6 linked regions of the Homo sapiens genome follow. The protein of the gene in region 1 purifies or fractionates together with the protein of each later gene. This does not show direct contact. Each region holds a gene or a part of one and is shown in the gene's direction. Other genes may lie near its edges. The genes, in order: NMNAT2, YEATS2, SPRYD3, PWWP3A, ZNF507 and ZNF318.

Region 1 (3,322 bases):
CCTGCTTGGAGAGCCATAAGGAAATTGCTGTCTTGTGCTTTGTGTCTCTCATCCAGTCTCTGGCTCTTGGGATTCTGGTCTTTGAGAAATAGTCCCTGAGTATTAGGATACTTTTATCAAAATCTAGTACCAGCTACGGCCAGAAAGGGCCAGGTGGGACCTGAAAGCAAAGACAATGTTCTTTACCACACGTTTCACATCTGCAACATCCTTCAATTGCGGGAAAAGGAACTTGATTTAACAGAAGAACATGGTAGAGCAGCATCCAGAAAGTCTGTTATTCCTCTTGGATTTTTTGAAATAATCTTCAGAGGAAGGAAGGAAAATCCTATTTTGGGGTATCAGTGTTTGACTAGGGATCATGAAATAATAAACTGAAAAAAACTTTAGAGTTCAGTTGATCCAACACTTTCCTTTAAAAGTTGAGGGAGCAGAGGCCCATGGGATTAAATGGCTGGTCCAGGTCAGCCAGCAGGTGTAGGGCCTGACAAGAACATATTGTTTCCCTGACCCCTAGGCCGTCACACCACACCCTCCATTTCCTCATGTTGCTGACCAGGTGCCCATATGATTTCTACACTTCCCAAGCCTTACCCTGGCATCTTTCTTTTAAATTATATCTGTCCCAGGTGCTCTCCACACATAGGATGGTAATGCCAGTCCCAGGGGAGGGTGTGATAGTAAGGAAGGCCACTGTTAGGTTTCCTTTAGAAATAAAGAGATCTCAGCAGCTTGGAAGAAATCCCAGAAGCGGACTCCATCAATCCAAGAAAGAGTTGCTTTGTGGAAGGTGAAGGAAGACCCACAGAGTGCTCAGGATGATGCTATTGCTGGAGAGCGAAAGATGGAACAGCCTTGTCCAGGCAGAACAGTCATAAGCCAGGAAATGAAACAAAGGAAAACAGGTGCCTGAATTTCCTGGGGAAACATGGCTTGTTTAAGGACTTGGAGTTATGGATGGAATTTATGGGACCCACGTGAGCAGACCTGAGGAAGGCTCGATTTCTTTTGTTTCTTGGTCCACTCTGTCACTCTGCTCTGGTCAAGCCCCATTTGGTCTACAGCCCATGAGAAGGAATGAGGCTGGTTCTGCACTCTCAGCATGCAGTCCGAAAGCATGTGGGAGTGGGGAGGGAAAGTGAGATGAATTAAGACAAAGAACAGGTGCCATAGAAGTAGATTTCTAGGAATGAAGTGGGGCAGATCTTATCTTTGTGGATTACAGGCACTGTACTAAAAACAGGTTTCCTATTTAATATAAAAAGAAAGTGAATCTTCTTTTGGATAGAATCATCCATTCCCATCGCCGCACCCCCTACCCCCCAAACACACACACACACACACACACACACACACACACACACACACACACACACGCCCTACTCTTCATTTGCTAGGGGAAGGTCACAGCACAACTAAATCCAGGACAGGACATTGTGACCATGACCCAGCCACAGTCAATACCAGAAAGATGATTCAGAGTCTGAAGTGGTGCCCCAGGTGCCAACAGGATAACCTCTACCCCCCGACTTTGTCTCTGGGGTCCTGTTCCTTCCTGCAAAGCCCAATCCAAGACTGGCATGGCTCAGAGGTTGTGAGAAAGGCATGGACTGGAACAATCATGTCCAGAGGGGTCTGGAGCTTTGTTTCCTGTTCACCAGCAAAAAATGTCTCTCCCATTTTTCTGAAAGTGGCTGATGTAAGAACAGGCAGAAGGAAAACCCTTTTTGTCAATAACTCTGTCCTTAAGGAATGGTCCTCTGGGAGGGCTGTGCTGCTAGTGGGTACCTCAGTCACACACCCCCAACCCCAGGCAGCCTCTAGAGCCTTCTTGCTTTCATTTTCCTTGAATGTACATAGGAACAAGGGGGAAAGTCTCTTACTGAAGTGCCTGAAACCCAAAGCTAGAGCTTCTAGAGACGCCGTTCTTCCTGTCTCAGCTTGGCCAGCCTTTCAACAATGTTCTCTAGTTTCAAGCTCCAGCTTCTCAGAAAGAATTAAAGAACTTGCTGTTCAAATTAAGTAGAAAGTGAGACTCAATAATAACTGAACTACAGCAAAAGGCAGAGAATTACAGGGAGAAAAAACTTGTACTTACCAGCCCAATTCTACTCTCCTCAAACTGACACACACACACACACACACACACACACACACACACACACACTCTTTTAGGGGACTAAGAGAGAGAAGCATGTTATTACATTTTACTCATCCAAACAGTAATGCAAAAATAAAACGGTAGAATATGAAAAGCTCAGGATCTCTCCCAAGGCTACCTACTGCAGGAGGGCCAACAGGTGAGATGGGAAGAATGGAAACAGGGACCGATTTTGTAGCTCATACAATTAGGACACCTTAGGAATAGCATTGTAGTAATGGTGATGAATATGCTCTGCCAAATTCATCCAGTCTGCACCATCTTATAGCTGCCCAGCACACTCGACTGTTCATGTGGTCTCTTTGTAGTGTGAGTTTGGAGTGTCCTATTAGCCTGTTCTGGTTAGGAATGAGTTAACGGCTCTTTCCCTCAACCTTAGTCTAGTCCCAGGGCTGAGGATTCAGCTGGATCCACATGGTCTTGAGGGTTGGCATGAGGAGGGGGAAGCTTTTTTGAATCGCTTTTTGATCACATAATCTGCCATTTTAAGAGTAAGATTTGCTTTATGGAAATCAATTCATTAATAAAAAATGATATTCAAGTTGCAATACCATTTCACAGTGAAATATTTTGAGTACAATTTTGTTGCTAGAATAGTCATGGGCAAGAGTTTTATGCAAAATGTTTCAATTATGTTAATAAATAAGACAATGCTACAAGAGTCTTGTGTCTTGGTCAAGAACTTTCTCTGTGAATTGCAGCATTAATCACTTTTTCTTCATAATTTTACTTGACAGGAGACAACAGTTGTAAAAATGTACTTAGAACAAGCAGTTTCCTGCCTGGTTCAGCTGATGCCACATGTGTTATATAAAAGTATGTACAGCCACATCCAAGGATGATAAAGGGAAGAATAATTAGCAAATTTGTAAATTGTGCCTCCGTTTTCTTAGTTTTGAAACATTAAATCTTACATCTTGACTAATTTGCATAGTCCAGTGTTGGTTAACTTTGGCTCCTCAATGAAATTAGTATTTTATGAAATAAAATTATATTTGTGAAAATGAAAAACTTGAACAACTTTTTAGCTTGAAAGATCTTAACTAAAACAGAACTTGTTAAACTCGCAATTTGCTTTGGCAATGTAAACAAGCAAAAGTGAACAATTTGTTAACTGTTCAATCCTGCTGTGATTATCAGTTCTTATTTCACCTTCAGTCA
Region 2 (5,067 bases), on another chromosome or scaffold:
CTCATGCCCGTAATCCCAGCACTTTGGGAGTCAAGGCAGGAGGATCACTTGAGCCCCTAGGAGTTTGAGACCAGCCAGGGCAACATAGCAGGACCTTGTCGCTACAAAAATTACAAAAATTACCCGGGTGTGGTAGCTCGCCTGTAGTCCCAGCTACTTGGGTGACTAAGGTGAGAGGGATCACTTGAGCCCGGGAGGTTGAGGCTGCAGTAAGCCATGAGCACACCACTGCACTCCAGCCTGGGCAACAGAGCCAGGCCCTGTCTCAATAAAATAAAAAGAAAAGTTGTTCTCTGCCCCCAGCCCCATTTATATAGAAAAACAGAAGCTCCACCCCTCCTGTCCAAGGAAACCTGGAGCACAGAGGTGGGGTTACTTTAAGACTTAGGGCCGGGCTCAGTGGCCTCCCACTTTGGGAGGCTGAGGCAGGAGGATTGTTTGAGCCCAAGAGTTCAAGACCAGCCTGGACAACACGGTGAAACCTTGCCTCTACAAAAAATGCAAAAATTAGCCGGGCATGGTGGTGCATGCCTGTAGTCCCACCTATTCGGGAAGCTGAGGAGGGAGGATTGCTTGAGCCCAAGAAGTTGAGGCTGCAGCGAGCTGTAATCATGCCACTCCTCTCCAGCTTGGGTGACAGCGCAAAACCCTGTCCAAAAAAAAAAGGGGGGGCAAGTCCCAGTTTTGCCATTAAGCTTCTTGAGAGCCTAATGCAGGATGGCCTCTCCTTTCTCTCATCTCCTGCAGCGCTTAATATCAACAGCATGAGGGCTTGTCTGACTTCGCTGTGTAAGCTACTCGGAGAGCAGAGACCGTGTTAATGATCCCCGGGCTTCACTGACATTGTGTGGAAAGCACAGTACTTGCACATACTAGGCTTCCTTTTAATCTGACTGATTCCAAACGGCCCCTAACCTACAATGGTTTGACCTGTGATTTGATGTTGTGACTTTACAATGGTCTGAAAGCTGTAGGCATCAGCACATACCTTGACTTACGATGGCCTTGTCCAGATAAGGCCATCGTAAGTTGAAAATATCCTAAGTCAAAAATGATATTTTCAACTTACGATGGGTTTTTCAGGATATAGCCCCAGCCATCATAACTTGAGGAGCAGCTGGAGCTTGTTAGAGCCCAGTCAGTAAAACAAAAGGCCAGGAGCTGGGTGCCCTTAAATCTTGTACCTGGTGTGGACCTCACACACTCATCCAGAAAGTGGAAGGGCACTAGTGCCCTAGATCTGGCCTTGAGGTCCTCACACTCCTGATTAGGTTTTGTATAAATCACCTTATTAGAGACTGGACCCATAATATACATTGAAATGTTAACAGTCCTGCTCTCTGAGCAGTGAGAATAGGGGTGATTCTTTTTATTTTCTTCACTCTGCATTTCTAAATTTTCCAGATTTGAGATGAGGAAAAATCAGGTCAGTCCTTAATACTCAGAGGGAGGGGGATGACCTGGTTTTTGGTGGCAGAAGTGAGAATTCCTACTCTTTCATCTTAGATGGCAGTTACCTTACATAGATCACACACAAGATGCCTGTGTTTATGCCTTTCTCCCTCGTGAATTACTAGTTCTCATCATTATAGATCCATAGAATGTTAGAACTGGAAAGAAGGTCAGCTCCCCTGATGCTTATCCCCCTTCCTCAGACCATGGGTCTCTTGGAGACGGAAAGTCCTCTTCCGTTGGCCCCACAGCTGTTGTAACACTGCTTGCCTGTCATTTAGAGTGCCCATCATCATTCTCCTCTGCTGACAACCTCTGCCGCAAACTGGAGGACCTGCAACAGTTCCAGAAAAGGGAACCCGAGAATGAGGAGGAGGTGGACATCCTCAGCCTCTCCGAGCCAGTGAAGATAAACATCAAGAAGGAGCAGGAAGAGAAACAAGAGGAAGTCAAGTTCTACCTGCCACCAACCCCAGGGTCTGAATTTATTGGGGATGTCACACAGAAGGTAGGGGTTGTGGTGTTAATAGTTCATGCAGCAGACCAGCTCAGAGCTAGATGTTCAGACGTTCAGCTTCACAGACCCAGACCCAGGTGTTCAGCCTCACAGACACAGACTCAGACCCAGACTCTTCTGGTGCCGTAGATGCTTGACTTCCTTCTGCCTGGTTGACCCAGGTGTGCTCTCAGGGCTCCCACCGTCCCACATCAGAGCCCTTGGGCAGAAATGCTAATTACATGTGAAAACATTGCTTGTTGAACGCAGACGTGAAGCAAAGCTGGCTAGATAGAAATGGTTGATTACTCTTCATCTTGTTTTTCTCATCTGCCTCAGTAGAAGCACCTTTCCCTCATGAGGCACGTCGTACTCTTTCTGAGTTGCACGTCAGCGCGTAATCCTCCCCTGATGTGTTGATAGCTCCTGAGTGCCCCGCCTGTGGTGCAGATGGCGTGCACCTGCCTTACTATACAGGAGAGAGGTATTTATCCACCCTGCTGGAGCCTAACAGCTCTTCAGCATCTGCCAGTTGCTCAGGGCCCAAGGTGAAAGACAGTGTGCTTTCATTGGATGCCATGAAGAATGGGCAAGATGCAGTTTCCAAGTGCAAACAGGACGTTGGAGTCTGATTCCAGACCTTTCAAAGTGTTGATTGCGTATCAGAACCCAGGCAGATCCCAACCATGTTCTCCCACGAAGGAGATTTGAGAGATTTTAATAGGATTATAGTCATATTTTAAATATCAGCCAGAAATGTGGAAAAACAAGATAACATTCTTCTAGATGTTATATTCCGTGTTCCTTTCCCGTGAATTTTGCCCAATATGTTTGCAGAGTCCTCCTTCCAACCAGGCATCGCTTTGCATGTCAGGGAGGTATGCTTGTTTGGAGAGAGGCTGTTTCTAAAGCAGCGATACGAACAAACGGCTTTCTTCTGCTTTTCCAGATTGGGATCACCCTGCAGCCCGTGGCACTCCACAGGAACGTGTATGCGTCCGTGGTGGAGGACATGATCCTGAAGGTGGGTGCCTGCAGGGGCCGCCAGCCAGGAAGGATGGTTGCATCCCAGGCGGTTTGGAGTAAGGGGCAAGGACAGAAAAGGAACAAAGATAACAGGCTTTAAAATGTCTCGTCTTATTTGGGCTTAAGTTCTCTCTTTTTGTTTTTTTGTTTTTTTTCCTTCTGATTTTTAAATGGACTAAGTTATGTTTCCTCTGAGTCATGTGGTTTCAGGTGCCTCCTAAGACGTATTCTGGGGGTGGTGGTCAGTGTGCTCGTTGCTTTAGGAGGTGGCAGAGACAAAGCCTATGGTTTTCTGTACACGTCACAACAGCAAACAGCCCCAACTGTCCTGACCCTGGCAAGGGGACGAAAATGCCGCAGCCTCCTTCCCCAGCCTGATCCTAGCTCAGCAGTTCCTTTCCTCGTGGATCCTCTCCAAGAATAGGGATACCTCCGTAACAACTGCTTTCCTTAAATACAATGTCTAGGGCTGGGCGCGGTGGCTCATGCCTGTAATCTCAGCACTTTGGGAGGCCGAGGCGGGTGGATCATTTGCAATCAGGAGTTGGAGACCAGCCTGGCCAACATGGTGAAACCCCATCTCTACTAAAAATAAAAAATTAGCTGGGCTTGGTGGCGCTCACCTGGTAATCCCAGCTACTTGGGAGGCTGAGGCAGGAGAATCGCTTGAACCCGGGAGGCGGAGGTTGCACTGAGCCAAGATCGCGCCACTGCGCTCCAGCCTGGGCGCGAGAGTGAGACTCCATCTCAAAATAAATAAATAAATAGAATAATGTCTGATTAATGAAAATCACTCCAATTCATAATTTCTCAGAATCATGGCCTTTATCATTATGGTCTATTATTGAGGCCTTTAATTTTTTCTTAAGGACTTTTTAATCCCTAGTTGCAGTGGTTTCAAACATTTGGGGTAAGGGATGGGGTTAAATGTGTCCCTTCTTGCCAGCAAGCAGATGGCCATTTGAAGAATAACAGCATCTTCCATTGTAGGCTACAGAACAGCTGGTGAATGATATCCTGAGACAGGCTTTGGCAGTTGGATACCAGACAGCTTCTCACAACAGGTATTACTATCTCTGCAGTCTGTGGTGTGAGGCTTACACCTCTTTCCTAACAGTTGAATTGCCCATGAAGGTGTTTTATACTTACATCAATCCAGTAGGAGATGGAGTGAGTGCTTAGGACACTCTTAGAGCCAGATGAGCTCAAGGGTCTGCTTTGTCATTTTTAGAGAACCTCATGGTTGTGAAAGCTCACTCAGCTTTGCTCAGAGGTTTATATCCTCCTCATTACTTCACAGACACCTAGGACTCTGTTTTATTACAGGGTTGAATAAATATTAGCTTTGCAATTAAAGATAACAGTGTCCATTACATGTCAGACACGAGGGCCAAGCGTTGCATATATTACCTAATTTGTTTTTCATTGCAGAACTATTATTCTCTTTTTAAAAATCAGGAAACCGGGCTTTGAAAGGTAATTTTACCCAGCTTACCCAGCAAATACAGTGTAGACCTGGACTTCCGACTCAGGTCTCATTGGCTCTGAGGCCCCTGGGCTCGCCACTGCTCTTTGCTGACTCGTTGTCTTTGATTAAGACACTGAGTTTCAGTCTGTTCCTAGGCCCTGAAAGGATGGTAGATAGGCCACATCTGCTTTTCTTTCGGAGGAAACAAATATTATTTTATTGCATTATGCTAAAGGCTGTCACAGATTTATAAAATTGTAGCAAAGTGCCTGAGGACATGAAGGGCCTAAATCAGAGGAATAGTAGATGAAACTTCACAGGAATATATCAGACAACATAGGCGTCTTTAGAGAAAAGGAAGGGGAACCAAGAGTTCCGGTCCTGCTGCCCACTGTCCTGCTTGGACCCACAAGTGAGCCAGGGCCTCCTGTGGCCCCTGCTTACCTCTGTGCTCCCTGTCCTGGAGGGGTAGAGTGACTTAGGTGCTTTTGATGGAACGATTAACATCACGCCTGGCCTGGCGTGGCTCCGTCTCCCGTCTTTCTAGGAGATGGGAAATAAGGTCCCAGAGTTTTGTGGTGCTTTGACTCAGCTTTCGGTCTGCTGAGACTCACTCACAAATGTG
Region 3 (5,067 bases), on another chromosome or scaffold:
ATGACCTCAACCTGCACTACCGGTTTCTGAATTGGCGCCGGCGGATCCGGGAGATTCGAGAGGTCCGAGCTTTCCGATATCAGGAGAGGTTCAAACATATCCTTGTAGATGGAGATACTTTAAGGTGAGTTCAGGAGAATGCTTCCACATTTTCTTCTCTGTTCCAGATCTTAGAGAGGAAAGGGTTTTTTTTTTTTAACTTTTATTTTTTCAGAGAAGGGGACTGTGCACTGCACAGGGAAGGGCGATGCTCTTGACTCCAGAGGCCTTTCTTTTTCTTTTTTTTTTTTAAGACAGAGTCTCGCTCTGTCACCCAGGCTACAGTGCAGTGGCGTGATCTCAGCTCACTGCAACCTCCGCCTCCTGGGTTCAAGCGATTCTCCTGCCTCAGCTTCCCAAGTAGCTGGGATTACAGGCGTGCACCACCACATACGGCTGATTTTTTATATTTTTGGTAGAGACAGGGTTTCACCATGTTGGCCAGGCAGGTCTTGAACTCCTGACTTCAAGTGATCCACCCGCCCAGAGGCCTTTCTGAGTGGAGCAGTGTGTGCTGCTTCACCCTGCACTCACCTCTGCCTCTGTCACTGGGTGGCTCTGTCCTCATCCAGCAAGGAGGGGATCCAGCTGGGTAGGGGAAGGGATCACATCAGACACAGGAGGCTGCTGGGGTCTCAGAAGCTTCCTAGGTGCTTTGTTGAGAAGACTCCAGTGGGGTAACTGAGTCTTCTGCCACTGTCTCAGGGATTAGATCTAGTGAAGAGTGGCTGTTTCAGAGATAGTTGATTTCCTGTTTGGGGAAGGGCCATTCTATAGTGTACCCTGTCCACCAACTCCTGTATTTCCAGCCCCTTAGCTTGTGTGTGTTTCCTCCCTCTTTTCTGGCTTGAACCCCTTCCCTGACTCCTTCTGAGCCCATGCTCTCACAGAGTTCCACTGAAGGGGGAAGAAAGTAGTACTGTTTAACTAGAGGCAAGAAAGCTGAGGAGTGGGAACTGAATCACTGTCTTCCAATCGATGAAGGGCTTTGGTAAAGAGGATAGAGACCAGCCATTATTCTCCAGCTCCACTGAGGACAGAGCCAGAGGAAAAGGGCTGAAGCTGCAGCATGAGAGATTGAGGTTACACAGGGTTGTGAGACCTCTCTTAGGCAAGTAAGGGAGGCTCTACATTCTTTTCCTCCTGGAAATGAAGAAACCAGGCTTGCACTGGTCTGGTACGGGTTGGATTCCAGCTGGAGGCTGCGAGAGGAGTAGGGTGAGGTGACCTTAAGTATCTGGTTCTGATGTCTGCCGATGTACTGAAGTGCAGCCTGATGGATTCTCCTGTGTGCTGGCCCTTGCAGGGTAAGGGTGGGAGAAGCTGAGGCCCTCCCCCTACTCTTGGGCTAGGCTGCTAATGGAATTCCCCCCTCATTCCTCCTTCAGTTATCATGGAAACTCTGGTGAAGTTGGCTGCTACGTGGCTTCTCGACCCCTGACCAAGGACAGCAATTATTTTGAGGTGATCAAGGCAGTGGGTGGGCAGAGCAGGGGGTGAGCTTGGGGGTGAGATCATTAAGCCCCAAGAAGCTCCTTTACTAGATGTATGACCTGGGCCTTTTAATTTTCCATCAGGGCTGTCCTGTTGGCTGGGAAATAGGTGCAGGATAGCATGGCCCCTCATCTGAGAGATAGGTGCCCTGGAAACCTGTCACCCTGTCCCTTCTGCTCTCCTACCCCTTAGCTAGGTAGACTTTGACCCATATCCCAGACTTGACTCATGTCCCCTAACCCAAACCCACCATATAGGGACGTGAGTCCTATCTTTCTCCAAAGCTTTGGAGTAATTTTCTAAGTGAAATAGGCACCCACTCTCACCAATTGCCCCCTCTGAGTATCTTATCTTTTTTCCTGATTCCCATGTCCTTTTTCTTTTTGAGCCTCAGCGCCCTTTAATCTCTAAGTCCCCTTCCCCCACCCCCAGCAATTCATCCCATTTCCCAGCCCTGCTGACTGTGCCCTGCTTTCTTCTCTCCAGGTGTCTATTGTGGACAGTGGAGTCCGGGGCACCATTGCTGTGGGGCTGGTCCCTCAGTACTACAGCTTGGATCACCAGCCTGGCTGGTTGCCTGACTCTGTAGCCTACCATGCTGATGATGGCAAGTGAGTTGGCTCCTGTGCAACCCGGCCCTTTTCCTATGAATTTGGGAATCTTAGATCTGAAGAACTACCTTGGGCTGGCTTTTCCCATTGGGTGTTTCATAGACTTTTCTGGTCAGGACAGGGAAGTGGCCTGGCAGCACCCTTGAAGGCTTACAGACTAGAGGAGGGTGATGCTCACGCCAGGACGTAAGTGGGTACCATCACAGAATGACCAGGAGCAGCAAGATGAGGATGAGGCCTCTGCTGTCAGTGCTGGGGAGAAGTTGGGAGGCCAGGCTCGGGTCCTGTGTCTGTACTACTCTGTCTGTAGGCTGTACAATGGCCGAGCCAAGGGCCGCCAGTTTGGGTCAAAGTGCAACTCCGGGGACCGGATTGGCTGTGGCATTGAGCCTGTGTCCTTTGATGTGCAGACCGCCCAGATCTTCTTCACCAAAAATGGGAAGCGGGTGAGTGGGAAATAGTGGTGGGATTTACGTGGCTGAAATCTGCCCAAGGATTTGTGGGGAGTGATTAGGAAGAGTCTGCTGGCTGGGGCTTGCCCAGGGACCCTTGCACTGAGTTCCCATCTCCTCCAGTCCAGCCTCAGATTCTCCTGAAGTCTCTTGCGTGTAGGAGAAGATACTTCCCATGGCCAGAGGAAGCTGGGACATTGCCCAGATGACAGGCAGAGAGAGGCAAGTTAGTGGAGCAGAGGATGAGCAGGAATTGTGGGGAACAGAATTGGGTGATTTGGGGGAAGGTTTTGAGCAGATAAAAGAGAGGGGAAGATTATGGCCTGGCCATGTAAGCTGGAGGTCCTCTTTGGGTTTTGACTTGAGCACTTTTGGGGATATGTCCTTTCTGTGTCCTGTTTTCCTTGTTTCACGTCTCTTTCACTATCCTGTTCGTAGAGAGACTAGGCGTGGTGAGGAGATGGGACAGGAGCCAATAGTAGAGAGAGACACACAGCTCTCTCCCTTCTCTCCAACTCCATCTCCCACATTGGGAAATTGGTTTCTCAGGCCTTGGCCAAGGGGTCCTGCTGCCTTAGCATCTGCGCCTCGGCACTCTCCTGTCCAGCACACGTACTGAAAGTATTTGGCAGCAAGTCAGGAGACTTGTGTTTGTCTTCTAGCTCTGTACATACCTTGCTTAGCCAGGAGTACTTAGCACATTTGGAAACTTTTCTGCACCTCTGGGTTGCTTTTTTTTTTTTAATCTGTCAGTGTGTGTGATAATTATTGGTTGCATCATCTTTTTTTTTTTTTTTTTGAAATGGAGTCTCGCTCTGTCCCCCAGGCTGGAGTGCAGTGGCACCATCTCGGCTCACTGCAAGCTCCGCCTCCCGGGTTCACGCCATTCTCCTGCCTCAGCCTCCCGAGTAGCTGGGACTACAGGCGCCCGCCACCACGCCCGGCTAATTTTTTGTATTTTTAGTAGAGACGGGGTTTCACCGTGTTAGCCAGGATGGTTTCAATCTCCTGACCTTGTGATCCGCCCACCTCGGCCTCCCAAAGTGCTGGGATTACAGGCGTGAGCCACCACGCCCGGCTGGTTGCATCATCTTAAAAGTACCCTTGTGAGAATTAGGTGAGCTATGGAAAAGCAGGCCGGGTGGCAGCTCCGTCTTTCCCCCCACTGCAGGTGGGCTCTACCATCATGCCCATGTCCCCAGATGGACTGTTCCCAGCAGTGGGCATGCACTCCCTGGGTGAGGAGGTGCGGCTGCACCTCAACGCTGAGCTGGGCCGTGAGGACGACAGCGTCATGATGGTGGACAGTTACGAGGATGAATGGGGCCGGCTACATGATGTCAGAGTCTGTGGGACTGTAAGTAGCGGGTGGGAGGGTGGGAGGGGCTGGGTCGGAGGAGGCTGGGCAGAACACCTGTGGGCACATGGTCATGTCTGAATTGCTGGGAATGGGGAGTCGGGACAGTGTCCGTGTGGGGTTTGGCAAGATAGCCTAGGCTCTTGACATGAGTCCTTGAGTCCAGATCTGTGTTTTCTTTAGCACATGTTCTCTTTTCTTCACTTCCTCCTCTTCAGGGAACTCAGGTTCGCAGTTTGACCCTGGGAACAAGTAGTTCTGCTTTGCCTTTTTTGGTTCCTTCAGCTTCTGGTGTCTTCTACAGCCCTGCACAACTGCCTTTGAGGGGCTGGGGGTTGATCTGGAGGCAAAATGCCTGGCCCAGGCTTTTCATTCAAAGTGTTGTGGGGCAGGTGTGGTCAGAAGTCCACACATGTGGTGGAAGGTTCTTAGCCATCTTTTTTGAGGAAGTGTCAATGTCAGTTTCTATTGTCTTATCCCTGCATTTGATAGAGGATTAGAATGGAGGCAGATAAAGATTCAGTGAGCATCCTTACACCTCCAAACTTGCTTCATTTATCTTTTCCTCATACCTGCTTTAGTATGGATTTTAAGCTTCGTTGGGAAGCGTGTGGAGCTTGAGAAAGGGGAATTCTTCCTCCCCGGATTTTAAGTTTTGTTGGAAAATTCATGAACCTTGAGAAAGGAAAATTCTTCCTGTCTGCCTCAATACACTGTGCTGCATTGGGAGTGAATGGACGCCAAGTCCGGGATCTGGCCCTGACCTCTAGTGGGCTGCTCAGCCCTCCCACTTCGAATTGTCCCTCTCCTACCCCCTTGCTCCTGGCCTGGCCTTTTTCTCCACCCTCTGGCCTTTCCACCCCAACCCAGGCTGTTTTCAACTCAGTCTTTGATAACAAAACAGAAGCAGTGGGGGGTGGGAGCGGATTAGGAGCCAGGCCTCCCCCTGGTGGAGTGGAACTCAGGGAAAATGACAGGAAGTGTGCCCTCCTGCTGCTTCTGACACTCTGCACCCCCGTCTGGCATCAGGGTCCCAGGCTGCAGCGACCGAGAGCTAAGAGGCCTCAGATGCCCACTCCGTGACTCTCATGTCTTTCCTTTTTCCCCTCAATCT
Region 4 (5,053 bases), on another chromosome or scaffold:
CAGGTCTGCCTTTCTCTGGTGCTGCGGCCGGTGTGCTCTCCCCTATTTCCAGGTCTGCTGGGGCGCACATCAGAGCCAGCAGCCGTTGTTGATCTCTTTTGATCCAGGGCAGCCCTATTGCTGAGAGGGGTTGCTAGCTAAGCAATTGTTATAATTTTCCTTTACAGGGAGGTCACTTAGTAAGGACAATTTGGCATCTCATACTCTTTCGTAAAAAATTATTTTTAGTCAGTCACAGTGGCTCATGCCTGTAATCCCAGCACTTTGAGAGGCTAAGGTGGGAGGATCCTCTGAGCCCAGGAGTTTGAGGCTGTAGTGAGCCATCATTATGCCACTGCACCCTAGTCTGGGTGACAGAGCAACACCCTGTCTCTAAAAATAAATATTATTTTAAAACATTGTTAAGGCCTGGTGCGGTTGCTCACGCCCATAATCCCAGCACTTTGGGAGGCCGAGGCAGGTGGATCACGAGGTCAGGAGTTCGAGACCATCCTGGCCACCATGGTGAAACCCCATCTCTACTTTAAAAAAAAAAAAAAACCAAGCATGGTGGCACGCGCCTATAGTCAGTCCCAGCTACTCAGCAGGCTGAGGCAGGGGAATCGCTTGAACCCGGGAGGTGGAGGTTGCAGTGAGCTGAGATTGTGCTACTGCATTCCAGCCTGGTGACAGAGCGAGACTCCGTTTCAAAAAAAAAAAAAAATATTACACATCCTGTAAAAGTTACCATCCTAACCTTCTTAAGTGTATGGTTCGATGGCGGTGAGCACTTTCACAGTGCTATGCAGCCGGTACTGCTGCTCATCTCCGAACTTCATCTTTCCAAACTACAGCTCTGTCCCCATCAAACAACTGCCCTCTCATATATATATAATATATATTATATATATAAAATATATATAGCCATATATATTTATATATAATGTATATTATATAAAATTTATATATTATATAAAATATATAAATTTTATATATAATATATAAAATCATATAATTTATATATTTTATATATAAAATATATATTATATATAAAATATATTATATATAAAATGTATAATTTTATATATTATAATATATACAATTATATAACAATTTTATATATTATATAATATATAATTGTATATATTATATATAAAATGTACAATTTTATAATATATAAAACAATTTAATATATAATATATATAAAGTATGTATACTTTATATTATATATAAAATATATAATTTTATATATCATATGTATATGTAGACATACACACACACACATATGTATTTATTTATTTTTTTTTTTTTGAGACAGAGTCTTGCTCTGTCACCCAGGCTGGAGTGCAGTGGCACAGTCTCGGCCCACTGCAACCCCCCCACCGTGCCTTGGTTCAAGCGATTCTTCTGACTCAGCCTCCCGAGTGGCTAGGATTGCAGGTGCCCACTACCACGCCTGGCTAATTTTTGTTATTTTTAGTAGAGACAGCATTTCACCATCTTGGCCAGGCTGGTCTTGAACTCCTGATCTCGTGATCCACCCACCTCGGCCTCCCAAAGTGCTGGGATTACAGGCGTGAGCCAAAGTGCCTGGACTCTCTGTCATACTCTTTTTTTTTTTTTTTTTTTTAGAGACAGAATTTAGCTCTGTCGCCCAGGCTGGAGTACAATGGCATGATCTTGGCTCACTGCAAGCACCACCTCCCGGTTTCAAGCGATTCTCCTACCTCAGCCTCCTAAGTAGCTGGGATTACAGACATGCGCCACCACGCCCGGCTGTTTGTTTTTTTTTTTGTTTGTTTTTTTTTTTTTTTGGTATTTTTTGTAGAGACAGGGTTTCACCGTGTTAGCCAGGATGGTCCTGATCTCCTGACCTTGTGATCCGCCTGCCTCGGCCTCCCAAAGTGCTGGGATTACAGGCGTGAGCGACCACACCCAGTCCTCTCTCTCATATTCTTTAACACACAATGATTAATTACTAAAATGAAGACTCTTGTTTTCTGAAGGGAAAAAGAAATATTTGACAACCAGCTCCTTGAAGAGCGGAACCGGCGCCGTCGGTGAGGGAGCAGCCGGCTGTGCTGTCAGCGGGGCCTGGCGGTGGAAGCGCCTCCAGTGTGCATGAGCGTGTCTGAAGATGGGGGGCTCAGGGGGCACGTTTGCGTTTGGACCTGTCTGTGCGTTCTCCTGCGTGGCAGTCCTGATTTCCATGCTTCTGGAGAATCCATTTCGTTAACACTGAAAGCCAGTTCTCTTTTCCTGGCAGTTTTTTTCATTTTATTTTTGGCATTTTTTACAAGATACCGTTCGGGAAAGGCTTTTGAAAGGACGGAAGCGTATTCACTGTGCGCCAGTACTCCTGGCTGTGCTGTGGTTTCTCCCGACGTGCACATCGATCTCGTATGTGTGGCATCTGATATTAAACGGGAGGTTTTAAGAAGCGTCTGCCGTGATCATGGAGCTTCGGAAGCGGGAATGGTTCTTCCGGGTTTGCTGTTTTGTCTGTTTCCCCCTTGTGTGGTTTCCGCCTGCGACAGTTCCAGAATTTGCTCTCCCACTCAGTGTGCTCTGCAGCTGTGAGGAAACAGCCTTCGTTAGAGGCGGGAGCAGAGACGAGCCGCTGCTCTGTGTCGTGTTTGCTGTGGCCGCAGGGAGAGGAGCAGGACACGCACCTTTCCAGGGGCCTCTGTGTCCCGCACTGTGTGTGAGTGGACCGCAGCGCGCAGCCACATGCCCTGGCTGCCATGGGCCAGACCGCCTCCACCTCCCCCGCCCGCCTGGCCTGTCCTGAGTGCATTTCCCTGCACTGTGTCGTCACTGCACAGCCAGTCACCGCGGTCTCAGTCATCGGCGCGGATGGCTATGCTGGGGTCCCAGGGTGGCCGCAGCAGTCAGGGTCACTGTGGGAGCCCTGGGGTGGAGTGACAAACCGCATTGTCCTGTGCCCGCCATGGCAGAAGCGCAGCCTTTGTATGGAGGCCCAACCGCGCTCCCGTCTGGAGAAGCGGCTTCCGGGGTGTGGCTGCCGGGTCGGCTCTGGTCCACAGCACGGTGCCGGGGCTGCAGGTTGTTGAGGGCTGTGACTCCGTGGGGCTCAGCCAGGCTCCAGCAGGGTCAGACGTGCTGTTAAGAGCAAAGCCACAGACGATGACTTGTCCATTCTCAGTGGATGCTCCAGGCTGTGCCTACACAGCAGTGCTGGTGACATGTCCAGGGTTCCAGGGCCCGGTGGCCTGGGAGCTGCTTTCTCCCCACTGGCTGGGCTGCATCTGGCCCTGGCTGGAGGCCTTGCTTTGAGGGGCTGTGACCCTCTTCCCCCAGGCCCTCCCCAGCCGACGACAGCCACCGGAGAGGAGATCGGAACACGATTGTCTCAGATGCAGGGCGCTGTGCGGGACGAAGCCGCAAGGACTCTCGTATCGGGCCCTTGGGACTCGGGAGGTGCCAGAGGCGGCGGCTGCTCTGGACCTCGGTGTTCACTGACCTTTGTTTCACTTGCCTCTGCTCGACTCCGAGAGCAGGAAACCCGGCCGTGGCCTGGCAGCTCCGCCTCCCATGCCCGCACGCTGGGGTCTGTCTTGTCTGGAGCAGTGGGGCACACCCCGGAGGAGGCGGGGGTCAGGGCTGTCGGCCTTGGCCCCCTGCTGGTCGCTGTTTCGGGGACTCGGGGCGGCCAGTACCACCGCCTGAGGCGGGGCTCAGCAGCGTTGCATGTACGGGCCTCGTACTGCCTCATGGAAAATCCTCCGGAGCCGCCCTCCATTGTGGGTTCCTGAGAGTAGGACACATTGCCATGGTTTTGTGGGAATCACGCGCCCCTGATGGAACTTTTCTGCTGTTGTGAAGTACTTTTATCCATTTGCTTCTCTGCTGACCTTGCCAAGTTGTTCGAGGTGGAATTAAACACCTCCCAGACCTCTGGCTTGTCTTTTCTGAACCCCCAAACACATCCCACTGCATGGGTTGTCCAAGCTTGGAAATGGGAGAGTGACCCTGCCATCCCCAGGGACATGGCCTGGCCTTGGGGTGGATTCCCACCTCACTGGCGGGCCTAGGGTGCTGTTTAAACAGCAGCCAGAGGCTGGGCGCGGTGGCTCACGCCTGCAATCCCAGCACTTTGGGAGGCCAAGGCAGGTGGATAACCTGAGGTTAGAAGTTCGAGACCAGCCTGGCCAACATGGTAAAACCTCATCTCTGCTAAAAAAAATTAGCGAGCATGGTGGTGGGCGCCTGTAGTCCTAGCACCTGGGGAGGCTGAGGCAGGAGAATTGCTTGAACCCGGGAGGCAGAGGTTGCAGTGAGCCGAGATCACGCCACTGCACTCCAGCCTGGCCACACAGTGAGACTCCGTCTCAAAAAAATAAACAGCAGCCAGGGGCCTCACTGGGGTTCATGCCTGTGGCCCCAGCTACTGGGGAGGCTTAGATGGGAGGAACACTTGTTTGGAGGTCAAGGCTGCGGCTCCAGTGAGCCGAGATCACGCCACTGCACTCCAGCCGGAATGACGATGAGCACCTGTGTTGCAGCATAGCCCTGCCCAGCAGGTGGAACCAGAATGTGCCAGAGGCCCCCTTGTGCGTCCCACCCCGCCTGCACCCTCTGCCCTTACTGTCCTGTGGGCTCTGAGGGTGTCAAGGCCGCTGGGACAGGCCCTGCCTGGGTGCTTCCCTCAGTAATGGGGGGTCGTGGGTGCTCTGGGTTGTCAGCCGGGCAGTTGAGTGGGAGTCAGGGGTGCTGACCTCACAGGCACGGCCAGTGAGGAGCATTCCGGGGCCCTGAGGATGCCAGCATGGGTGGTCCTGGGCTCGCCCTCTCCACAGCATGGCTGGCGTTCCTCGACTGCCGCCGGAGCCCCGGGAAGACAGGCTTGACCCCGTGCACACACGCAGGGAGACGCCAGGAGCCCTGCCCTCAGAAGCCTGCACGCTTTGCCTCTCTTCTGGCAGCTAGCTAACCCTGCATCCCCACCTGAGCCTGTCCCTGGCACTGAGGACACTGGACCTGTGTCACTGGGGTGGGGTGTCCTGGGTCCTGCTGGGTGCTGAGTGTCTCCATGCCAGGAGCTCCCGCCTCT
Region 5 (5,067 bases), on another chromosome or scaffold:
TCAGTGTCCTATCTGCGAGCACATAGCGGACAACAGCAAAGATTTGGAGAGTCACATGATCCACCACTGTAAGACAAGAATATACCAGTGCAAGCAGTGTGAAGAATCCTTCCATTATAAGGTAAGCATTGGTTCAGGAAGTCTTTCAGAGGACCTTCGCATCTTAGAGTGAGAAGGGAACTTTGTAGATCTAATCCAATCACCTCATTTTATAGATAAGGAAACTGGGTCCCAGAAAAGTTTGATAAGTTGCCCAAGGGGATCCCAACTTACCAGTATTAAAGTTGGGACTGTTCAGAATTTCTGCTGTAGAATCCTTTTCCCTGCCTGCTGCCTCCTTGACAGCCTCTGTGTTTTAGTGTGTATAGTTTAAAGTGTTGATTTTCTGTTGCAAGAGAATTGTAGGGAGTGTATAGTGGATTGACATACGTTTGACTTAACGTATTGACATACGTTTGACTTAAACAAATTTAACCGTACATCATCACAACAAAAAAATACATATTTTTCATCTTATATGGCCCCAGAATGCCAGGCATTCAGTTCAGCTTCTACATAACCAACAGTGATGTGTATCATTGCAGAAGGAAAAATGGGCTATGGCGGACCTATTAAAAGGTACTGTCATGGAAATAGAGCCATGTGTGTCATGTTTTATGGGCAGGGTAAAGAACTTTCAAGAGTTATTTTGACTGTCTGATTTTTATCTTAAGTGCTGACCTTATCAAAACCAATATCCTGTATGAAGTGCTATTCTTTTATAAAGGAAACGTTGAATCATTGGTTTAGAACTTTTCTTCAGTGGGCCAGGTGACTCCTTGAAAATGTATTACAAATGTTATCCTAAGGGCTAACTAGGAGGTAGACTTTTTCCCTCAGATTACCGAGAGCTGGGGTCTAGCTGTGGTAAAAAGGTCACAGGAGGGAGGCCGAGGCGGGCAGATCATGAGGTCAGGAGATTGAGACCATCCTGGCTAACACTGTGAAACCCTGTCTGCTAAAAATACAAAAACTTAGCTGGGTATGGTGGTGGGCACCTGTAGTCCCAGCTACTCGGGAGGCTAAGGAAGGAGAATGGCCTGAACCTGGGAGGCGGAGCTTGCAGTGAGCCAAGATCATGCCGCTGCACTCCAGCCTGGGCAACAGAGCGAGACTCCATCTCAAAAAAAAAGGTAACAGGAATAAGAAAGCCCTTGAGTCTGAGGTTCACTGCTTCTCAGATTACACTCATGAAATTCCAAGTAGGATGTCCACATAGGCTGCAAAGACAAGTTCCTGAAGTCTCCAGGAGTTTCTTTTGCTACTGAGCTCTTGATTCATGGGAATGGAAGTAGAGGAGACAGGATGTCCTTGGAGGAGCACTTCCAGTTAGATCTCTTACACATTTAGATATTTCAATGAAAAATTAGGAGTCTGGTGATTACTGATTGGATTTTTTTTTGTGAAGTTGCATTATTCTGAACACTCTGCTCGTTCCTCCTCTGGGCCTACCAGTGTTTCAGTAAATACGGACACGCCCTGTGTAATCACCTAAGAAAATGGTGACTTCCTTTCAGAGAATATGAAGAGGAACTGTCCGTTGAATGTGATTATGATTTGCTAATGTACTTCTTTCTATAAATTGTCAAATGTGTCAAATGATCCTTTAGCAGACTTGATTTTAAAATATGGTAATTCGTTGTACTAGGCCATGAAAGCAATGAACCTGTTCTTCTACAGCCTCCTAAGAGTTGGACATGTATATTTATTGAAAATTACATATTTCTTTCCACTTTTTAGAGTCAATTGAGGAACCATGAGAGAGAACAGCACAGTCTTCCAGATACCTTGTCAATAGCAACTTCTAATGAGCCAAGAATTTCCAGTGATACAGCTGATGGAAAATGTGTCCAGGAAGGTATCTATGTATTTTGTTATGCAGGCTGCAGTGACTTGCACATGACATAAAAGTGCCCTTAGTTGTCATGGTTGGTTATTTTCAGGGCAAAAGCCTATATTCTCCTCCATTTTTGTACCATGGATGTGAGTGAATCTGATCTCTGTTTCTGAGGAAATGCCAAGTACTGAATGAAGCAGATGATTACTAGGTCCTAGGTGAGAAGCCCTAGATAGTAAGGATTCATCTTCAGTTGAAACTTAAGAGCCCCTTAGAAGGTGATGTACCAGCAAGCCAGAAAAGCAAGCCAGAAAAGCTACAACATGGAAAACAGGCCTCCCCTCCCTCTCTCGGCACCAGTTGACCTACTGAGAACAGAGCTTTTGCAGATGGTAGGCCCCCACCCCAAACTTTAACTGGGGCTCCCCGCTGTGATCTTATTCTTACCCAAGTATGACTGCCAGATTTCATCTGCATTATTAAAAAAAAAAAAGCACACACACAGACACACAAGATCTTTTTATGTACTAGTTAAGTAGCAGTCAACCGAGTTTCTGGTAATAAGAATATTAGAATCAAAAGATTTAATTAGAGCTCCATGAAAAGGCGGATGCCACATCCGGAGAATTAAGGATAAAGTGTACTAAGCTGTGCCGCTTTGGTTCAGCTCACTTAAATTGATATACTTTAAATGTCTCCAGTGTGGCACATAATGTTTATGGGAGATAAGACATATTGGGGTGACTTTCCCTTTTAGATTTGCTAAGAATTAAAGTTAGAAACGACTACAGAGTGAAATGTTTTACCATAATGTTTCATTAAATTATACCCCAGAAAGCATAACTGATTCTAGAATGCTTCTGAAAGAACTGATTTTGACACCACTGTAGCACCAAAATTCTCATGTCAAACAGATGTCATCCCTGTAAAACTCTCTGAAACAAAAGGAGTTTATGATATAGCATCTGTTTTTGCAGTAGATGGCTGAGCTAAAACAGTTTTGTTTCCTTTTTACAAAATAGCCCTAAATGCCTCCTTTTATTTTAATTCATTATGTTTCCATATCCCCTTTAAAGGAGACATTAAAACGTCTGATATGATTGGACCATAAATCCCTAATGAAAGGATGAAGTAAATACTACTCAGTAGCACCACCTGCAGTTAATATCAGTGTTGGAAGATGTCTTTTTTAGCACCGTCCTAAAAAGCAAACATTTCAAACTGTCCAAATGAGTTAACATTAAAATTCACAATTTTAATAAAAAGATTAAAGTGTCAGCTCAAAATTAAAATAACCACTTCAGACTTTACAGTATTAATGAATGTTTACTAGATTTTATGTTGCAGCATCTTTTCTTTGTGGCTCATGCTTTTTTTTTAGGGTTACATGCATGGATTTTTAAATTGCCTGCCATGCCTCTTTTCCTCCACCTGGCTCCATTTGCTTTTTTCTCTCAGTACTGTAGCAGTTCAAATGGCTGCATACTTATACCTGGATGGGTACTTTATTAACTCAATATTAGATATTTTGAAATCTGGTTGTCAGGCCAAAGAAAAAATTTTTAGCTCACAAATAAGGTAATAATAATTCATGCTTTGTTAAAACTTCTTTACCTATTTAGTAAACTTGTTAAACAAGAAGAGAGATTTGTGCCTCTGTGATCCTCAGTCTCTGCCATTCAGATAGCACAGATACCTTAGGGCATGTTTCAGCTTAACATTTGCTTGGCCAAAAGGCATGGCCTGCCTGTCTTGAGCTAGATACTGTGTTAGGTGCTGGGAGTACAGTGAAAGGCATCACTGCCCTTCAGGAATCCAACTCAGTGAAGAAGACAGAACGAGGCTGATGGGTATGTCAGCAGATACCGCAGGAGCTCAAATAGAGCCGCAAGCAAAGCCCTTTCGTATGGTGTTACTCCATGAAACCTAATTAAATTGTTTTTTATTGGAAACCTATAATTTGCCAAGCGCTGGGGATTCAGTCTAAACAAAACAAGCAGATCCTTATCCTCAGGGAATAGACAGCTTAGTGGCAGGGCAGAGATTTTACCCAGACATGCAGGTAAAGTACAGACTTTGCTAAAGGAAAAATATAGGACTTACTAAACTATGCTGTGAGGTTCTAGCATTTCCAATTTGTAGATGAGAAAACTGAGACTTCAAGAGGCAAAATAATTTACCCATGATCATACTGGTAGAAAGTGGCAGAGCGAGGACTAAGCCCAAGTTTTTGAACTTTAAATCCAATATTCTTTCCATTGGAAACAGTTGCTTGAAGTAGCACAGGCTCTCATTCTGTGCTATATTAAGTTTTTCCATCTGTCAGTTTTATTAGTTGTCATTGATCTGTAATATTTCTCACACAAAACCATTATCCAATATTTCACACTTCATTTTTTAGGGTTTTTTTAAAACTGTATTTGGAACAGTGCCATTTATAATCAAGTCCAAGTTTTTAACCTACCAATTAAGAGCAATACTTAGATTATAATTATGATTAGTGTGTATATTAACGTTATAGATTTATACCAGGAAATTAGGACATTTTGTTCTGCTTGGCAGTAGTTATTAGCAAAAGAAAATTTCAATTTTAGAAACCGTAAATTTAACTTAAGGATTTTCTTTGTTGAAATTTCAGTGTGGGTTTTCCTTTGTATAATACCACGGATTTTACTTTTATGCGGTGTATACAGGTGTTCTACCTAAGCTTTCTTCCTGCCAAGAGACACACAGTTCTTCCTGCTCTGCCTTTTTCATGAGCTTCCATGCTTGCTTTGTTTCTGAATATAAAGCAGAGTGTGAATAGCCTGTGGACTGTATGCTGACAGACAAGTACATGAAGCGTTGAATATCTTCAAGAAATCGTTTTATATGATCAAGTCACTCAACTCGTGTTGACATAAGCTTACCCCAACTTGAATTACTCAGCCCTGTTGTTGCAGAGTGAGTTTAGTAACATGGCTACTTTTCGTTGGATCCATGTCTCCTGCGTTTCGGAGAGCTGCATATTCATGTCAGTCATAACCTTTGTCCCTGTAACCTGTCAGTTAACTAGAAAGAATTATACATTGCATAGCACTTAAAAATTTGCGGCCGCTTTTCCTTTCTTGTTGCGTTGGTAGCTGACGTTTAGTGGTAAACAAAGAAAATGCACTGGGTGAAAAGGCCTTAGGCTTTTTTTTTGTAGGGTG
Region 6 (5,067 bases), on another chromosome or scaffold:
ATTGGCCAGGCTGGTCTCAAACTCCTGACCTCGTGATCCGGCCTCCCAAAGGGCTAGGATTACAGGCGTGAACCACCCTGCCCAGCATTTTTTTTTTTTTTTTTTTTTTTTTTTTGAAACAGAGTCTTATTCTGTGGCGTGTGGCGTGATCTTCGCTCACTGCAACCTCTGTCTTCTGGGCAATTCTCCTACCTCAGCCTCCTGAGTAGCTGGAGTTACAGGCGTGTGCCACCACACCCAGCTAATTTTTGTATTTTTAGTAGAGACGGTTTCACCATGTTGGCCAGGCTGGTCTCGAACTCCTGACCTCAGGTAATCCACCTGCCCCCGCCTCCCAAAGTGCTGGGATTACAGGCATGAGCCACTGCGCCCGTCCCCAGGCTGGTGTTGAACTCCTAGGCTCAAGTGATGATCCTCCCGCCTCAGCCTCCCAAAGTGCTAGTATTACAGATGTGAGCCACCCCACCTGGCCCGAGAGGATAAAAGAGGAATCTTTTTTATCTTTGTGTTTCCCATTGCATACAATATGTCTAGCACATAGTACATCCTCAGTTAATATTGAGAGGTAGGAAAGAGAATATATTCTGTGTTATCACCCAAGCTCTATTTTTTTCCATGTCTTCCTAGGAGAGTTTTCTTTCTCAACCAGGTAGGCCTAGTCTTTTATACCTGGGTCTTCAGTCTAGGTAGGGCCTTTGATGGGAGAAGAATTTAAAAGCTCTGGTCCTTTGTAATTGACTTATACATTGGATTTCTATTCATGTACGAACCCAATGATAATCTGTCATCTTGATTTGGGTGCGTCTTCATGGTCTCTGAAACTAACGGATATGTTACAATTCAGTTTTCATCTCAGCAGTAAGGAATATTATGTCCACAGCCTTTCTTTCCTACCTGTCCTTGGTATTTCTTCTTTCTTTACCTCTCTTTAAAATGTATAGTTGGTTTGAGATTTTCTTTCCCTTTCTGTTCATTTCAGAAAAGCACATACAAACTTGTAATTTCATCTACCTAGAGACAACTGTTATTATTACTTTTTTTTTTTTTTTTTGAGACAGGGTCTCACTCTGTCACCTAAGTTGAGTGCAGTGACACAGTCATGGCTCACTGCAGCCTCCAACTCTCAGGTCCAAGCATTCCTCCCACTTCAGGCTCCCCAGTAGCTGGGACTACAGGTGCTCACCACCACCACACTTGGCTAATTTTTGTATTTTTGTAGAGTTGAGGTTTCGCCATGTTTCCAAGGCTGGTCCCGAACTCCTAAGCTCAAGTAATCTGCCCACCTCAGCCTCCCAAAGTGCTGGCATTACAGGCATGAGCCACTGGGCCCAGCCGAGACCACTGTTATTAATACCTTGGTGTATAATATTATTAATACCTTGGTGTATGTTATTCCAAATACATACACCAAGGTATTATTATATATTCCAAATACATTAATTTATTATTAATACCTTGGTGTATGTTATTCCAAATACATACACCAAAGTATTAATTCTGTCCATCAATTCACTTAACAAATATGTATTGGTCACCAATAAAGTGTCAGGAACTGGTCTAGATATGGGAAGTATCACACTGAACAGTATAGACAAGGTTCATATTCTCATTAAATAGCAGAAGATGATAAATAAATAAGTCCATGTTAGGTAATGAGAAGTGCCTAAAAAAAGAAAACAGGATAAGGAGTATAGAGTGGTTAGAGAAAGTATTTTGGATAAAGTGATATTCAACGCTGTATGCCGATTTACATATCTTTGTTGATTATTCAAGTGTATTTTATTAGTTTTCTCAGTATATCATGAACATCTTTCCATGTCAGTAAATACACTTCTATAATACCATTTTTAACAACCTTATTTTTTGTTGTTTTGGTTGCATGGTTAAGCAAAATTTATTTAACCAATCAAATCACCTGTTGTTTGACATGATAATTTCCATAGGATAAATGTCAAGGAGTGAATTGCTGGGTTAAAGGGTATACAGTATTTTGAGGTATGTAATGTATTCCTAGATTATCTTCTAGAAGATGGTGCCAGTTAATACTCCCACCAGGAGTGTATGAACTCTCCCATCCCCTGCCTGTCTGGTGTGATTTCTTTAGTGATTCTTGAATAGGACTCAGGTAGGGAAAGAGTATCTTTGAAGCCCCAATTGTTTCCCTTTCTGTATCCTACCTTTTTCCCTGCGTGAGCCAATATTCCAGGTACCCAGCTCTTCATCTTGTGTACTATAGAACCCCATTCATAGTGAGCCTCTGAGTTGCAAAAATTATCTTTTTTTCCTGTGCCTTACTCCTGAACATTAACCAAAATTCTCATTTCCTGAGTGCCTTGTTCCAGCTTGGTAATAAATTAATTCATATTAAAGTATTTGCTGTTGATAACTTTAATATTAAGAAGTTGATATATTTTTAAAAAGGATACATGTTAACGGTGTTAAAATTTTTTTTTTTTTTTTTTTTTTTTTGAGACAGGGTCTCACTTGTTGCTGAGGCTGGAGTGCAGTGGCACAATCTTATCTTACTGCAACCTCCGCCTCCTGGGTTCAAGTGATTCTCGTGCCTCAACCTCCCGAGTAGCTGGGAATACAGGTGCACACCACCATGCCCGGGTAATTTTTGTATTTTTAGTAGAGATGGGGTTTCACCATGTTGGCCAGGCCTGTCTCGAACTCCTGGCCTCAAGTGATCTGCCCACCTCGACCTCCCAAAGTGATGGGATTACAGGTGTGAGCCACTGCACCTGGCCTCTAAAGTTGTTAAATTCTAAAAGTGATATTTTAGGCAGTTAGGAATGTTTTTCCTAGATTCCTTTAAATCATTCTACATAGATGACTTTATCTATGTGTAGTTGTATAGTCTACTTTATCTATGTACACCAACCCTTCTCTCCAGTTTTTCATACCAGGATGCATGTGATGAGTTCACTATCACCTATTTTCTGCATTTGCTTTGCTTAGCCTGTCAATTACCTTTTCCATATTGGTTTTTCTTCCCTCCCTAGCTGTCATGATTTTCAAATTTAACTGTTTAGTTGCATAGGTAACATATTCAACATTTACTAAAGGGTATACAGTGAAGAGACTCCTACCCATCCTTGTTCTCCACTTCCCTTCCCCAGAGGCAGCCAATGTTTCCACAACCTTGGCTGTTCTTCTAGAGATATTTTAGGATATGTAAGTAAATATATTGCCATTATGATTTACTTTTTATGCTGTGATAGCACTATGAAGTCAAATAGTTCTATGTCTTAGAGACATGTTTCTGTTAGGGTTCCCCCCAACTTGTGCAGCTTTAAACATTGGAAATATGGTCATATGGCCCTATTTCTATTATTATGGCCACTTACTATTTCTAACAGAAGACAAGTCTAGATTGCCTTGAATTCCTTGTAAGTACAGATTTTTCCCCTCTAGGAATCAAAAGTAAACAATGAGAAGTTTCGTACTAAGAGCCCCAAGCCTGCCGAAAGCCCCCAGTCAGCCACTAAGCAGTTGGATCAGCCCACTGCTGCTTATGAGTATTATGATGCTGGCAATCACTGGTGCAAAGACTGCAACACCATCTGTGGGACCATGTTTGATTTCTTCACTCATATGCACAATAAGAAGCACACACAGGTTGGTATCCTACTCTCTGTTATTTTCACTCCCACCCTCACTCTCTTCAAACTTCTATACCCCTATCTGCATTGCAAAGCTGGAAAAGGAAACATTCTCATATGGGCAGGAGCCCCAGTCTGAAGAGCCAAGAGACACCAACAAAGGAGACACCATCCCCAGGGCTCAGTCCAGGGGACTTGGCTGTAACTAAACACCATGACAAGTGTAAGTGAGGTTTCTGCCTCTTTTGATTCCTTGAGTACCTGATTTTTTTGTTTCATTTTACCTTTTTCTGGTACTTGCTCTAACATGTGTTTACCTTTTCCACAGGTGATTTCCATTAAAACAGTTGGCAGAGGGGGTGGGGGTGGGTAGCTGGGGGCTTCTGGTCCCCTGGTCTTATTATGGGGGAAAAAAAAGAGAAAAGTGGGTCATTGAGCTTTTAGTGCTGTTGTGTGAGCACCTCTGCCTCTTACAAATAGACACTGGATCCCTACAACAGACCTTGGGCTTCAAAGACCCAGAGTGAGGCCAAGCAAGATGCCATAAAGCGCACTGACAAGATAACTGTTCCTGCAAAAGGTATGTTTCCTTTTTGCCACCTTTGTGGTTTCCTTACATTCAGTTGAGGAAGAGGTGTCCCTGAACTAACATTGTAGGAAGCAGCATAGCATGAGACAGCCATTCCTTTTAACAAAGCCGTAGGAATGCCTTCTGTGTACAAAACAGTGTACTAGGTCCTGAAGCTATAAAGAGATCTATAAGACCATGATCTCTACCCATATGGCCAAAAATCTATTCACAGATGTTAAACATAGACATGTCACTTAAAACAGAATTGTCTTTGTCATTGGCTTATGGGCCCAAAATCTTACTTGTTTGGAATCCAGGTTAAAAAGGACAGGAGATGCAGTAATTTAACTGCCTTTTCAACTAAGAACTATACAATATTTTGAGTCATTGTTATTAAGGGGTAAGTGGAGAAGCAGAAACTTCCTTTGTCTTTAAACTTCTCAATTTCTTTTTTTTTTTTTTTTTTCCTCTGAGATGGGGTCTCTCTCTGTTGCCCAGGCTGGAGTGCAGTGGTGCTATCTCTGCTCACTGCAAGCCCCGCCTCCCGGGTTCACCCCATTCTCCTGCCTCAGCCTCCCAAGTAGCTGGGACTACAGGCGCCTGCCACCATGCCTTGTATTTTTTGTATTTTTAGTAGAGACGGGGTTTCACTGTGTTAGCCAGGATGGTCTCGATCTCCTGACCTCGTGATCTGCCCACCTCTGCCTCCCAAAGTGCTGGGATTACAGGCATGAGCCACTGTGCTCAGCCCATAAACTTTTCAATTTCTTACCTTCACAAGTAGCTAGTGCTGCTACTATACCCTTGAGATTTACAGAAGATAGTTTCCTCAGTAATTAATACCAACATGAGAGATCATCATAAAATGGTAATGGGCTATTTGGGAGTATA

Evidence for each region.
Region 2: the proteins of NMNAT2 (region 1) and YEATS2 purify together in Homo sapiens (affinity purification with mass spectrometry; one large-scale study listed by BioGRID and IntAct). This does not show direct contact.
Region 3: the proteins of NMNAT2 (region 1) and SPRYD3 purify together in Homo sapiens (affinity purification with mass spectrometry; one large-scale study listed by BioGRID and IntAct). This does not show direct contact.
Region 4: the proteins of NMNAT2 (region 1) and PWWP3A purify together in Homo sapiens (affinity purification with mass spectrometry; one large-scale study listed by BioGRID and IntAct). This does not show direct contact.
Region 5: the proteins of NMNAT2 (region 1) and ZNF507 purify together in Homo sapiens (affinity purification with mass spectrometry; one large-scale study listed by BioGRID and IntAct). This does not show direct contact.
Region 6: the proteins of NMNAT2 (region 1) and ZNF318 purify together in Homo sapiens (affinity purification with mass spectrometry; one large-scale study listed by BioGRID and IntAct). This does not show direct contact.

What each region holds. Positions count from the first base shown.
Region 1 is NC_000001.11:183,247,737-183,251,058, reverse strand, and holds the end of NMNAT2 (nicotinamide/nicotinic acid mononucleotide adenylyltransferase 2), read left to right. Parts: 3' UTR 1-2,822; downstream 2,823-3,322.
Region 2 is NC_000003.12:183,805,133-183,810,199, forward strand, and holds part of YEATS2 (YEATS domain-containing protein 2), read left to right. Parts: intron 1-1,733; coding exon 1,734-1,960; exon of another isoform or gene 1,961-2,897; coding exon 2,898-2,972; exon of another isoform or gene 2,973-2,980; intron 2,981-3,597; exon of another isoform or gene 3,598-3,720; intron 3,721-3,964; coding exon 3,965-4,038; intron 4,039-4,886; exon of another isoform or gene 4,887-5,067. UniProt on the Homo sapiens protein: Chromatin reader component of the ATAC complex, a complex with histone acetyltransferase activity on histones H3 and H4. YEATS2 specifically recognizes and binds histone H3 crotonylated at 'Lys-27' (H3K27cr).
Region 3 is NC_000012.12:53,072,172-53,077,238, reverse strand, and holds part of SPRYD3 (SPRY domain-containing protein 3), read left to right. Parts: coding exon 1-124; intron 125-1,427; coding exon 1,428-1,503; intron 1,504-2,019; coding exon 2,020-2,144; intron 2,145-2,454; coding exon 2,455-2,590; intron 2,591-3,767; coding exon 3,768-3,953; intron 3,954-5,067.
Region 4 is NC_000019.10:1,374,534-1,379,586, forward strand, and holds the end of PWWP3A (PWWP domain-containing DNA repair factor 3A), read left to right. Parts: intron 1-1,611; coding exon of another isoform or gene 1,612-1,624; exon of another isoform or gene 1,625-1,985; coding exon 1,986-2,043; 3' UTR 2,044-3,896; downstream 3,897-5,053. UniProt on the Homo sapiens protein: Involved in the DNA damage response pathway by contributing to the maintenance of chromatin architecture.
Region 5 is NC_000019.10:32,354,837-32,359,903, forward strand, and holds part of ZNF507 (zinc finger protein 507), read left to right. Parts: coding exon 1-121; intron 122-1,779; coding exon 1,780-1,897; intron 1,898-5,067. UniProt on the Homo sapiens protein: May be involved in transcriptional regulation.
Region 6 is NC_000006.12:43,341,230-43,346,296, reverse strand, and holds part of ZNF318 (zinc finger protein 318), read left to right. Parts: intron 1-3,417; coding exon 3,418-3,621; intron 3,622-4,085; coding exon 4,086-4,185; intron 4,186-5,067.